Regions from separate parts of the Homo sapiens genome. Here all the other regions are reported to be linked to region 3. The links are microRNA targets in miRTarBase. Many come from high-throughput screens and were not tested one by one. Region 3 holds a microRNA gene; each other region holds the end of a gene's coding sequence.
The links. Region 3 holds the annotated microRNA hsa-miR-1298-3p (CAUCUGGGCAACUGACUGAAC, at 1,529-1,549, shown strand). A microRNA usually pairs through its seed, bases 2 to 8, with sites in the 3' UTR of a target mRNA and lowers its output. Matches are read on the target gene's strand: a 7mer-m8 pairs with bases 2 to 8, a 7mer-A1 pairs with bases 2 to 7 and ends in A, and an 8mer does both.

Region 1: miRTarBase lists GRID1 as a target of hsa-miR-1298-3p. Seed matches in the 3' UTR shown: 7mer-A1 at 3,416-3,422.
Region 2: miRTarBase lists ZNF251 as a target of hsa-miR-1298-3p. Seed matches in the 3' UTR shown: 7mer-m8 at 3,255-3,261.

Annotation. Positions count from the first base shown.
Region 1 is chr10:85,598,508-85,602,733 of GRCh38, forward strand. It overlaps GRID1 (glutamate ionotropic receptor delta type subunit 1), which reads right to left. Exons shown (of 16, transcript NM_017551.3): 16 at 1,045-4,194. The coding sequence ends at 3,766. All of the region lies in intron 2 of GRID1-AS1 (GRID1 antisense RNA 1), which reads left to right. Among named protein-coding and RNA genes, the nearest start is that of GRID1-AS1, 23 kb to the left of the region's middle.
Region 2 is chr8:144,717,911-144,722,153 of GRCh38, forward strand. It overlaps ZNF251 (zinc finger protein 251), which reads right to left. Exons shown (of 5, transcript NM_138367.2): 5 at 2,999-4,243. The coding sequence ends at 3,734. Among named protein-coding and RNA genes, the nearest start is that of ARHGAP39, 34 kb to the left of the region's middle.
Region 3 is chrX:114,713,776-114,718,018 of GRCh38, forward strand. MIR1298 (microRNA 1298) reads left to right here and starts at 1,458; the gene lies at 1,458-1,569. The region is part of intron 2 of HTR2C (5-hydroxytryptamine receptor 2C); the gene reads left to right. LOC105373313 (a long non-coding RNA gene) reads right to left here. Exons shown (of 5, transcript XR_001755943.2): 5 at 3,719-3,812.

The sequences.
Region 1 (4,226 bases), not on the chromosome of region 3:
TTCTCCTTTAGAACTTGAAAAGACAAACATTAGGTATGGAATTAGTTTTACCTTGGCACTATTCGGGGGATTTCTGATTTAGGAACTAGGCAGCTTCTTCTTAAGAAAACAGCCCTTTGTGGTTCCCTGCAGCTGCTCCTGTCCACCCATCTGCTCACAGAATCCAGCGGTGTCTGTTGCCCGCCCCTCAGCCCCAGTCTGAGGAGTGGCCCCAACGTGGAGAAGCCTGTCCTTGGTGCAGGGCAGAAGAACTAGGGCTGGGCATCCTCCTTTTGGTTTCTAGAAGAAGAAATTTTGATCATGTCAGACAGCCTCCTCAGATCAGCTTTACTGAGCTTGAGGCCGACAGCGGGGCTGTCCCCCACAAAGTCACTGAAGCCAGGGGACTTTTTCAGAGGTCGGCTGAAAAGCACACACATCTGGGGGTGGAAGATCAGGTTGATGGCTTGAGGCCTGTAGGATGACTGAGGGCATAAGATGTTCATTGGAGAAAGGTCTCCACAGATCCTGTAAGGGCCAAATTTTGAGAAGCCAAGCTGGGGGTCCAGCCAAGCTGTGCTCCACCAGGAATGACAGTCCCTTAGCTCTGAGACCTAAGCACAGGGAAGCAACTTATCTGAGGTCAGGGTGAGTGCAGAGATGAGAGTGGCAGCACAGTCAGCTGACAATTAAAGGGGTGTTCATTCCTCCAGGCCATGGGAGCACTTCTCTACGCATGATGATGACCCAGTTCTCTCCTAAGACACTTCCAAGAACGTAATATTTTAAAGAACACTGTTAGGTTAACCAAAAATTAGACTTGCTCCTCAGCCTGTCCCTCACACTGTCCCCTGGTTGGTTTCAGGGAACTCTGGATATGCACTGGGTGAGGAGGGCCTGCCCCCACCTCCAGGCATATCTGAGACCCCCTTGAGGAGAGGAGTTTTCCTCATGACTGTCCCTGCTGATAGCACAGAATTTACTTCATGATCTCAGCATGCCCAGAAACAAGCAGACAGTATTTCTTCACCCCAGAGAATAAGAGCATAGGGAGCAAAGACAAGATTTATTATTAAACAACTTTAATCCAAATGCTGATTATTATTTGCAGTGTCTGAAGGCACAAAATATACCTAAAATGTATGGAATAGTCTAAACAGAGTTATAAATCCAAAGAGCAAAGCATGAAAAAAAGATACATTCTGAGCTGACACAGAAATCTGAGTTGGGAAGTTTTTTTTTTTCCTAGAGAACTTGCTTGAATATCAATCATTTCCCCTCATGCCAAGGGTAGAAAATTCTAAAAAAAAAAAAAAATATATATATATATATATAAACATGGTGAAGAATAACACCATGAGGTGTTAAGGATTTTGTATAAGCAGAATACTTCTCTTGAAGATGCTGGTCTCTCTCTCTCTCTCTCTCTCTCTCACACACACACACACACACAAACACACACACACAGGCGCACAAACACATCCTCCATCTCCCTCTCTTTCCTCCTTGACACTCATTCTAAGCAGAACCATCCAAGAAGACATCCAAGCTATACCCCAGAAGACAGGCCATCTCAGGGGGCAATGAGGAAACAGAGTTGGTGTGAGATAAGGCAGTGAGACCAGAGTTTGATTAAAAAAATAGAGAGATATATATGTGAAAAATTGACCATTCAGGGCAGGGCCCCCAACGTGCTGATGGAAAACAAAGCCTGCTCTTCCTCGGGGTCATGGTAGCCCACCTAGGCTTCTCTGAGCATGCCTGGCTCCAAGGTCCACATGCTCTGATTGGAGAAATGTCAATGGATTGCCTAGGTAGCACGAATATCAGACCATTCTCAGCATCCAGCAATAAATAACATAATTATAAACACTCTCTTCCCCACAGTGCTTTTAGCTGACTGTGTGATTTGGCCGTTCTTTACTGCTCAATCATGTCACTAGGGACTTTAGGAAAGAAATCAATCCTGGGCTAGTTATCACCCTCATAAATACATCTCTCTAGAAACTCTACAAGGCTATAGAAGAAGCAATCAATAGGACTTTGTATTTCTCCATGATCACAGAACCAGGCTCTCAGCTCCCTGATTACTGCTGGCTGTGGGAGCTCCACCTCCTTCAGTGACAGATGTGGGCTGTGTATTCCATTCTGACGGGTCTGGAGATCAGACTAACCTTTGTCTTTAGGAGAGGAACTGAAGTGACACAACTCAGATTCCCCCAGTTCCACTCCTAATGGTTCTTTCCCTGATTCTGTAGTTTAGTTGCCTCAGAAAGGGCAACTGAAGGAGGGGGCGCTGTTAGGTGGTCCTAGGCTTAGAAAACTGGGCTTCCCTGCAGCTGTACCTGCACAGGGATAGGCCTGGAAATCTCAGAGGTTATCAGATGCCTGAGTGGGGAGGGCCCCTGCTCTGGGTTGGATTGCTGCTTGAAGAGGACTCCAGGTCTGGTCTGGAGAGGGTCGTAAAGGTGGAAGGGAGAGTTTGTGCTGGAGCCAGCCCTGTTTGTTGGACTGCCTGCAGGATTTATGACCCAGAGATAGGCCTTTACTTTTGGGGCTACAAGCAACTTCCCTGGTGGATGGGAGTTACACTTATGCTTCTCACCTAAGGCGCAAGGCAAGGCTTCCTCCTACCCAAATAAACATGGTCTCTTTTCTCTATTTCTCAGCATGCCCCATCACCTGGAGTACTGGTCCACCCACCTGGGCACCTCCCCCAACTCTTACTAACAGAGTCCGTTTGCCTGACACCACAAAGCTTCTACTCCCTGCATCTATGGCCTCACTTCCTTCTCTCACCTGGGACCATGGGTCCAAACCCAAGGGAATATTCTTCCTCTACCTGGCCTTTTGTTCCACCACCTCACCTGGTCCATGCAACTAACCCCACCTCGCAACTCCCTGCCCCCATGGACCTTCTTCCAGACCAACCCCACCTCCGCCCAGTCTCCCTGAGGAAACGATGGAGTCTGCCCTCCTTCCCCCAATATTCTATCACTTTTTGATTCTTCTAATTTTGAAAAGAAAATGAAAAACAAGGCCAACAGTATGATATGAGAACAGCTCAGTATCAAAGCCCTCAATTACCTCACTATGGGTAATTGTCAGCTTCTCTCGGGCCCATGGGGCAGAGGCACACTGCAACACACACAGCGGTGACTAACTCGTCCCGCAAGATCCAAGACAGGACAGGATAGCCCTGAGTCCAGGGCACCTCCTCAGCCCCAGGCTACCCAGAACAGCCGATCACCCTACAGCACAGCAACCCAGTGGGCCAGCCCAATGCGGGCTCCAAACTCACTCTTTATCAAGCTGAGGGACTAAAAGGGACGAGGTGCCAGGAGCAAAGAAATGGGGCAGCAAGCTGTGGGACAAGGCAGCGAGTGGCATGTGGGGTTCCTCGTCTTCCCTTCTCCCCCAGCAGAGAGGGGCTCCTTATCTGGTCGCCCCTCCTGCCCTCAGAAAGGCCCAGGAATGGGGGGGCTCCTTTGGCACTTCAGAATGATCACAAGTAATTTGCCTTTTTATTCATATAGAACAAAATTTACAAAGTCATTCATACAGTTTTTGTGTTTTTTTACTGACTTCGAAAATTGGGAATATTCAAAATACACTTTTACCCCACTCCATTCTGTCATTATTTACACATATGTACAAGAAAAATGAAAGAGTCTCTGTGTATGTGTGTGTGTGCGAGTGTGTGTGGTTTGTGTTGTTGTTTTCTTGTATTAAAAAGCTCTGCTGGTCGGGTGGGTGGGAGGGTGGGCAGGAGGGCAGGCGGCGCAGTCAGATGGAGGTCCCGTGGGAGGTGTCCAGAGCCTCTGGAAGGACGCCTCCAGGCACGGGCTGGAAGGACATGGGGATGGGGGTCTTCACCGGGCTCTGCCGGAACAGCCCCCCGTTGGGTGACCTGTGTTTGCACTGCATGGAGGGCATGGTCGCCGAGCTGCTCAGCGGCAGCGGCAGGTTGCTGCTGGGCCCTGATGAGAGTGTCCGGCTGGTGCCATGGCTGCTCTGCTCTGGCAGAAAGGTGCTGACCGAGAGCTGGGTGTTCTGGTACTCCCGTGTCGGCTCCAAGGTCTGGGTGGGAGCCAGGCCCCCCATCTCCAGGGCCGAGAGCTCAATCGACGCTGGGGAAATCTGCTTGTGAGCAATGTCTTCATCCATGAGGCTGTTCATGCGCCGGTGGACCTGCTCCAAGTTCACTTCTTTGTCCTGGAGGGAAGGCATAGGAAGGTCAGGTGGAG
Region 2 (4,243 bases), not on the chromosome of region 3:
GCTCTCTTGGTGCTTAACCATGCATTGTCCTACTAACATCCTCAGTCCCAGGGTCCACAGCAAGTACGTGTCACAACAGCCCTTAGAGCCACCCACAAGCCCTCCCATGCCCCGGTGCTTCCTTCCATTCTACGTAAATGTGAGGCCTGTGGGCCTCTTAAGGGAGGCATCATTGTGGGACCTTTCCAGTAGATCAGAAGGAGAAAACAATTTTAATGTACCCAGTGTGCTCATGGACAGAGCAGAAGCAGAACACAAGGTTCACATTTACGCAAAGCACATTCTTGGCACTGTTTCCTTTCTCTGCCTCCTTCACCTCTCTTCCTTCCTTCCCAAGTACATCCTAAGCACCTGTTCTGTATCGTGTGCTGGAGATAAAAAGGTGCATAAGACAACATCTCTGACAGCAGAGAGTTCTCCGTATAATGTAGGGTAACGAGGTAGAAAGGAAAATGTAAGTTGAAATGGTGGGGATATGAATGTTGTGCTGTGGGATACAAGGGTAAAAGAGTTATTTTTTAGACGTGGGGGAGGTGTTTTTTTCCCCCATTTTAGAGCTGGAGAAAAAGAGACCCAAGAAGATTCAGTGTTTTCCCTGAGGTCAGAGTGAATCCATTTCAGAGGGAGACAGGACCCTCCAGGTGAGCCTGTGCTATCCACTCCCTCTTTTGTGTGGACCATTCCACATGGACCACACTAAGGCTGGCAATTCCCACACTTGGAAGAGGTTCTGTGATAAGAATTTTAATAATAAAGTGGGGGAGACAGAACCTGAGCGGGGGAATAAGCGCAGCAAATCACAGAATGGATGTTAAACCAAATGTAGCGGTGACCCCAAATTCCCTAAGAAAACAGTAAGGCCAGGCGCCGTGGCTCACGCCTGTAAGACCTGCACTTTGGAAGGGCAAGGTGGGTGGATCGCTTGACTCCAAGAGTTCAAGACCAGCCTGGGCAACATGGTGTGACACCATCTTTACAAAAAATTAAAAAATTATCTGGGTATGGTGGTGTGTGCCTGTAGTCCCAGCTACTTGGGAGCTGAGGTCGGAGGGTTGCTTGAGCCCAGGAAGTCAAGGCTGCAGTGACCTGTGATCGCTTCACTGCACTCCAGCCTGGGTGATAAGAGTGAGACACTGTCTCAAAAGAAAAAAAGAAAACAAAGATGGAATGAGAGATTAACTAAGGTAGGCTCCTTGAAGGGGGGAAATATTTCAGTTAGACCTGGAGGGAATGAAAGGTAGATTTGAAAAAAGATTCTTGGCCGGGCACGGTGGTTCATGCCTGTAATCCCAGCACTTTGGGAGGCCGAGGCGGGCGGATAACGAGGTCAGGAGATTGAGACCATCCTGGCTAACACAGTGAAACCCCGTCTCTACTAAAAAATACAAAAAATTAGCTGGGCGTGGTGGCGGGCGCCTGTAGTCCCAGCTACTTGGGAGGCTGAGGCAGGAGAATGGTGTGAACCCAGGAGGTGGAGCTTGCAGCGAGTAGAGATTGCGCCATTGCACTCCAGCCTGGGCGACAGAATGAGACTCCGTCTCAAAAAAAAAAAAAGAAAAGAAAAGAAAAGAAAAAAGATTCTTGCAGGTAGAGTCTCAGAATTGAAAATCAGAGGCCGGGCGTGGTGGCTCACACCTGTAATCCTAGCACTTTGGGAGGCTGAGGAGGGCGGATTATGGGGTCAGGAGTTTGAGACCACCCTGGCCAACATGGTGAAACCCCGTCTCTAAGAAAAATACAAAAATTAGCTGGGCGTGGTGGCACGCGTCTGTAGTCCCAGCTACTCGGGAGGCTGAGGCAGAAGAATCGCTTGAACCTGGGAGGCGGAGGTTGCAGTGAGTTGAGATCGTGCCACTGCACTCCAGCCTGGGTGACAACGCGAGACTTTGTTTCAGAAAAAAGGAGAAAAAAAAAAAGAATTGAAGATCAGAATTTCACAGGTGATCACACTCTGAGAAACTACTACAGTGTTATTCAAACTTCCCAATGAAACTCTTTAAATAGATGCTTACTGATCAAACCATGGTCAATAGGAGAATGCAAATTAAAACCATGGATACCACTACATCTCCACTAAAATAGCTAGAATATTAAAAAATGGACAATACTGCTGGGCACGTTGGCTTATGCCTGTAATCCCAGCGCTTTGGGAGGCTGAGGTGGGTGGATCACCTGAGGTCGGGAGTTGGAGACCAGCCTGACCAACATAGAGAAACCCCGTCTCTACTAAAAATACAAAATTAGCCGGGCGTGGTGGTGCATGCCTCTAATCCCAGCTTCTCAGGAGGCTGAGGCAGGAGAACCGTTTGAATTGAACCCGGGAGGCGGAGGTTGTGGTGAGCCGTGATCGCGCCATTGCACTCCAGCCTGGGCAACAAGAGCAAAACTCCGCCTCGGAAAAAAAAAAAAAAAAAAAAGGACAATACCAAGATCTGGTGAGGATTCAAAGCAACTAAACTCACACATCATCAGTGGGGATATACAACTGACTTTGTAAAAGTTTGGCAGTTTCTTAAAATGTTAAACATAAGCTTACCATATGACCCAGCAATCCCACTCCTATTTACCCAAGATAACTGAAAAGTTAGATTCACAAAACAGCCTGTAGTTGATACACAGTGATGGCAGCTTTAATCATAGTTGCCCATACTGAAAATGCCCAAATACCCTGCCATGGGTGAACGGATAAACAAATGGCTCCATCCATACAATGGAATGCTACTCGGTGCAAAAAAGCACTCTACACAGGCAATATGGATGACTCCAATGCATCATGTTCAGTAAAAGCAGCCACGTGCAAACAGCTGCACACTATTTCTGGAAATGGTGAGGTGATGGATAGAGGATAGAAAACAAACCAGTGGTTTCCACGGACTGGGGTTGAGGAGGGGTTAACCACAAGAGAGCACAAAGGAATTCTGGGTGGTGGTGAAGATGTTCAATGTCTGGAATGTGGTAGTGGCACAATTGTATGTTTTTGTCAAAGCCCAAAGAACTATACACTAAAAAGAGTAAATTTTATTGTTTATAAATTATGCTTCAATAAACCTGCCTTTAAAAAATTTTTTATCAGTAATTACAATTTTCAAAAGTGGAGATACTTGGTAGGCCCCTGCTTTCTTGGCCCCTAAGGTCCCTCTCTCTGTTAAACTGTAGAGCTCCTTAGAACCAAAACCAAACCACCTTTCATTTTAATGAAAATGAAATGCAAAAACTGGGGCTCCAAGCAAGGAAGAAACGTCTACCTGCAGTTCATCTGGGGGTTGGTGGGAGAGGTGGTGGAGAGAGTAAGGCTAAGCGCCCCCAGCAGGCCCAAGTTCTCTGTACCACACTTGGAGGCAGGTATATGGGACTGAAAGTGGATGTTCTCAGCCACAAGCCTGGGCCTGGATAGGAAACAAAGGATAAGACTGGAAGGATGTCAGGTAGGGTAGACCCAGAGCACCAGCTGGGCTCACTTTTCACGCCCTCCATCCATTCGTCATGAGTATCCGGATACAGCACCACACGGTTCAACTCCTGAGCACAGCAGTAACCTTTACACAGACAGCCTGATTTCCCAGAATGAATTCTCGTGTTTACTTCCAGATTTAATGACTTTGACTTTAGTAGTCATCTGAACTATTTATTTTACTTTGCCAGTAATATTTAGACCTTATATATCTTTCATTATGCCATCTTATCTTCTAATGTCAAGTGAACAGTTGCTAAACTGTCTTCTGCATTTATCACATTAAAAATGTCTTTCTTGGAAAATCTTCTTGATATGAATAAAGTATCTTTTAGAGCCATCATTTAAAGCAGGTTTCTCTCCAACACGAGTCTGCTGAGGTGGTGTGAGCTGTGAACTCTGGCTGAAGGCTTTCCCATACACACTGCAATGACATGGTTTCTGACCAGTGTGAGTTACCTGATGTTGAATAAGGGTTGACTTTCCACTGAAGGCGTTTCCACATTCTTGACATTTATAGGGCTTTTCCCCAGCATGCATTATCTGATCTTCAGTGGGTCGTGAGGTGGGACTGAAAGCTTTTCCATATTCATTACATCCAAAGGATTTCTCACCAGTGTGAACTGTCCAGCGCAGAATGAGATTTGCACCATGGTTAAAGGCTCTGCCGTGCTTCTCTCCAGTGGGAATCTGTCCATCTGCTGTGAGGCTGGAGCCATGAACAAAGGCTGGACCATGTTTTCTGCACTTACGAGTCTCTCCGCTGTGAACTTTCTGATGCTGAATGAGGGT
Region 3 (4,243 bases):
CTTTGGATGGTGGTTATAATAAAATGTGTGTAGTTGTAGCACCTTTCTTTTCATTCCTCACTCTCAAAACACATGCATACACACGTATACACAGACACACACATACACACACAGAGTCATGAGCAAAAGGATTTGAAGATTTGTTAGTTCGAATTTTCTGACAGGTTTTATTTTATAAATTGAGTTGTACAGGAGGTACTCTGAGAGGGTAAGTTGAAGAATTCTCCACAAATCTAATTAGAAAATTTAAAAAGTGAAAATATATTACATGTCATTTGTGGTCTGATATTTTAGCTTTAATTACACTGAGGGGAGTTATAAAATAGGCATATCAGTTTCGCTAAATATTGACACCATCTGATATAACGTTTGTAGAACTGGGACAGGAAACACTATTTTCAAAGTTGTCAAACTGAAGTACTATTTTTCTCCATAAATAAACAAAATGGTAGAAGAGTACACAAAACCATAAACAGATTCTACCTGAGAATTAAACCACTAAAGTAGAAGCCAAGCTTTAGATAGCTACAAAACTGGCCATTACTTCTTATACTTCACTTTTCTGTAAAATATTCTAGGCAGAAGATTTTTTAAAATAAAATCACCAATAAACAATTTTGTTTAAAATTTTTATGAGTCTGTGTGGTCTCCTAACTCTTTAAGAATGAGAAATGTATTTAAGGATTCATTTAAGGAAGTAGATAAAGGCATGGTACAGAATACCTACATATTAATTTGTGGGATGTGTAGACTGAGTTATGAGAATACTCAAGTTAAAAGTCACTTTCGCATTCCTTTCAAACAAAAGGCTTTGTCAGGTGAATGCTATGTTTTATATTTAATTAGCAATAACAAGTAAGATTTAATTGTAACCAAACTCAGCTATTTAGAAGTATCTTGTTTGTAAAACAGCGTAGAATAATGTCAACAATTTAGCAAGAAAACCCAATTCACAGCATTTCAGAGCAAAAAGGGATAGAGGTCCTCTATTGCAACTTCTGTGTCATGGATGAAAACAGTGAGGCTCAAAAAGTTTGAGTGACACATCAAGAAGTGGTAAGAGTCAAGACTAGAACTCATGTCTCCTACTGCCCAGCCTAATGTCCTTTATGCTAATCACACATATTTAACGGCTAGGGTGTTGAATGATACTAGAATGAATTATACATTATATAAATTATTCATTATGCAAATTAATTTTTGTTGTCTCAGTTTTCTGTATTCATGACATATTTGAATTTAACAAGATTCATCTGGTACTTCTAGCTATTTCTACATTTTATGAGTTGTATACATTTTATATCAATAAGTTATAAAACAATAGCAGAAGTCACTTCTTTTTTCCAGATGAGACAGCAAAACCAGAAACTGACCCTTCAACTTTGAAGTAGCTTTTTGTTTGTTTCTTTCCCCTTTATATAGGATGTCTTGAAGCCGAGAAGGAAGAGCTGTTGGAGAGACGAGGAGTTAAGAGTTCATTCGGCTGTCCAGATGTATCCAAGTACCCTGTGTTATTTGGCAATAAATACATCTGGGCAACTGACTGAACTTTTCACTTTTCATGACTCAGCTGGAACCCTCCACAACCAGAAGAGCCTGTTATAAAGTGAAAAGTTTGTGATCTCTTAATCTAATGAAATGGGAAGTAGGAATTGCTTGTGGGTGAAGAGACACCATTGTAAATGTAAGTGGGAATGTATTTTAGTATGCAACTAAATTGATTTTTAAGTGTCTTGACAAAAGATAAAGAGGATTTGTTTTTCTAGCTTGCAAAATTAAAATCAAATTAACAGAAAATTTTGATCTGCTCCCATCAGTGACACTTGTCGTGTACTTAACTCACCGGTATAAAATAACTATTTTATACTGTGATGGAGAGTAGCTGGCAAATGCTGGCAAATATTATTTGTATATTACAATATTTAAAAGATATCTAACCTCAAGCTATGGCTATGTACATGGATCCATCTAATGTATTTACCCCAATCACTCTTTATCTCATGATGCAATTTCATTTTATTCATAGCAATTATCACGATTTGAAATTATCCTACATCTTTGTTTAAATGTTTATTTTCTGTATCTCCAGCTAGAATGTAAGCTCCATTGGAGCAGGGGCCTGGTTTACCTTGTTTACTACTACATGCCCAGCATCTGGCATAGTGCCTGGCATGTAATAAGCAATCGATAAATATTTGAATATATGAAACTACTATTATACAGCTTTTGGTCCTGCAGATCGGTTGGAGTTGGTCTCCAACACAGATATTTAGCATATGGTTTGCTCCATTAGCTCTGCTCTTTGAAAACCTTCAGTTTGTTGTGCTATGTGCATACTAACACTGAGATAATTCCCAGATAGTTCTGCTACCACCTATGGAGAAAGCAGTTTCAAATTGCTGGGCATTCTGCCCACTAAGGCAAATTCTCTCCATGTCTGTTACTACCATCATAGAGTGATTTGCAATAGCTACTTTAAGTCTATCAATTGGGAAGTGTATGTTTTTAAAGTATTATTTTATGTAAATGGAATAGGTCTAGCTGTGAAAAACATAATTTTATATGCTGTAGATTTTGAGTTAACTGTTGTGTGAATTCGCACATAATTTAACAATAATCACGCTCATGGAACATGTCAAACACAAGCAGAGGTATTTAGTAAATACAAATGAGGAGAAAAAAATTTTTTTTTCCATTTGAATTCCAAGCATAGGAGGAACAGGTAAATCTATTTAAATAACCACTTAACATTATCTTGGAGGAGAGGGAATAAAAGTAATGAGCCTAGACTTGCATTCAAATTGAATAATCACTGGTGGAAGAGTAGTCTTTAATTTCATTGATGATAATAACTGAAAAACTTTCTATCAAAATAATAAAAATTATCTGATTTGACTATAATTAGCAAAGGTGAGTTTTTAGTATGACAAATGTATGATTTATTAGAAAATCGCTAGAGTACATTTGAAGTTGAAAGGAAAACTTCCTACAATATTCATTAGTCCTAAGGATAATTTTTGAATTAAATGAGCTCCCCCAAAATTATTGTAAATCTGTGCCACATTAATATAATCTTCCCAGGACTAATCTGAACATTTATGGCTAATTCATTTTTGATTTAGACATCTGCTAAAAGCTCACTGGGTATAATAACTAGAGGGATAATATTTGAATTATGAGTCATAATTTCTGAACACTGAAAATTGATAAAAATCAAACTTCTATATGTATTATTATTTATTCAATTTTTAAATGCTTTGTTATAAAAAGTGAGACAGAAGTGATCTAGTTGACTATATTCTACAATTTCTTTTTTTTTTGAGACAGGGTCTGTTGCCCTAGCTGGAGTAGAATGATGTGATCAGGGCTCACTGCAGCCTCGACCACCTGAGTTCAAGGGATCCTCCCACCTCAGCCTCTCAAGTAGCTAGGACCAGAGGCACACGCCACCACATCTGGCTAATTTTTTGTATTTTTTGTAGACATGGGGTTTTGCCATTTTGTCCAGGCTGGTCTTGAACTCCTGAGCTCAAGCAATCCACCCACTCCGGCCTCCCAAAGTGCTGGGATTATAGGCGTGAGCCATCGCACATGGTCTATTCTACAATTTAAAAAAATTTAGTGTGAAATTTAGTCTTTCAGTTTGATAGAAAATATGCTGCATCATTATAATGTGCTAACGGAATTTCCAGAAATCTAGTGTAAACTATACCTTTTCATGGGTGAATCTAGACTCTCCAATTTTTGTTAAAACATGAGTAGAAATGCTGGCATTTTTTTTTAAGACTCATCAATATTATCTTCAACCAGGTCTGGGAAAAAAAGAATAAAAAGTAGTGTGAGAGCAGAAAACGTGATTGAAACACGACCAATCTTTCTTCAGTGCCAAAGGGTGGAAAAGGTAATGGTAAAAATGAATTATAAATGGTTAGCTTTAGAAGTTGCAAGGCAAGCGTTTTCAATAAAGTTGCAAGCTTCTATCCTCTCCAAGCACAATTTGGGCAAAACCACAGCTCTTCCTTTATTCTTAGATAGTATCTTTTGACTTCACACCTTAAATCTCCTACCTTCCCATCAATCAGCCAATTACTTTGTACCCAGGACTTGGCCAAGGATTGTGGATGTTACATGGAAAGTACATCTATATGGCTCTTCTGCTCAAAAATTTGCCTTTAGTATTAATACAACACCTTTAAAAAGCCTTGTTCGTGCCAGCCTTTGTACCCCACAGTTTTTTGTTTTC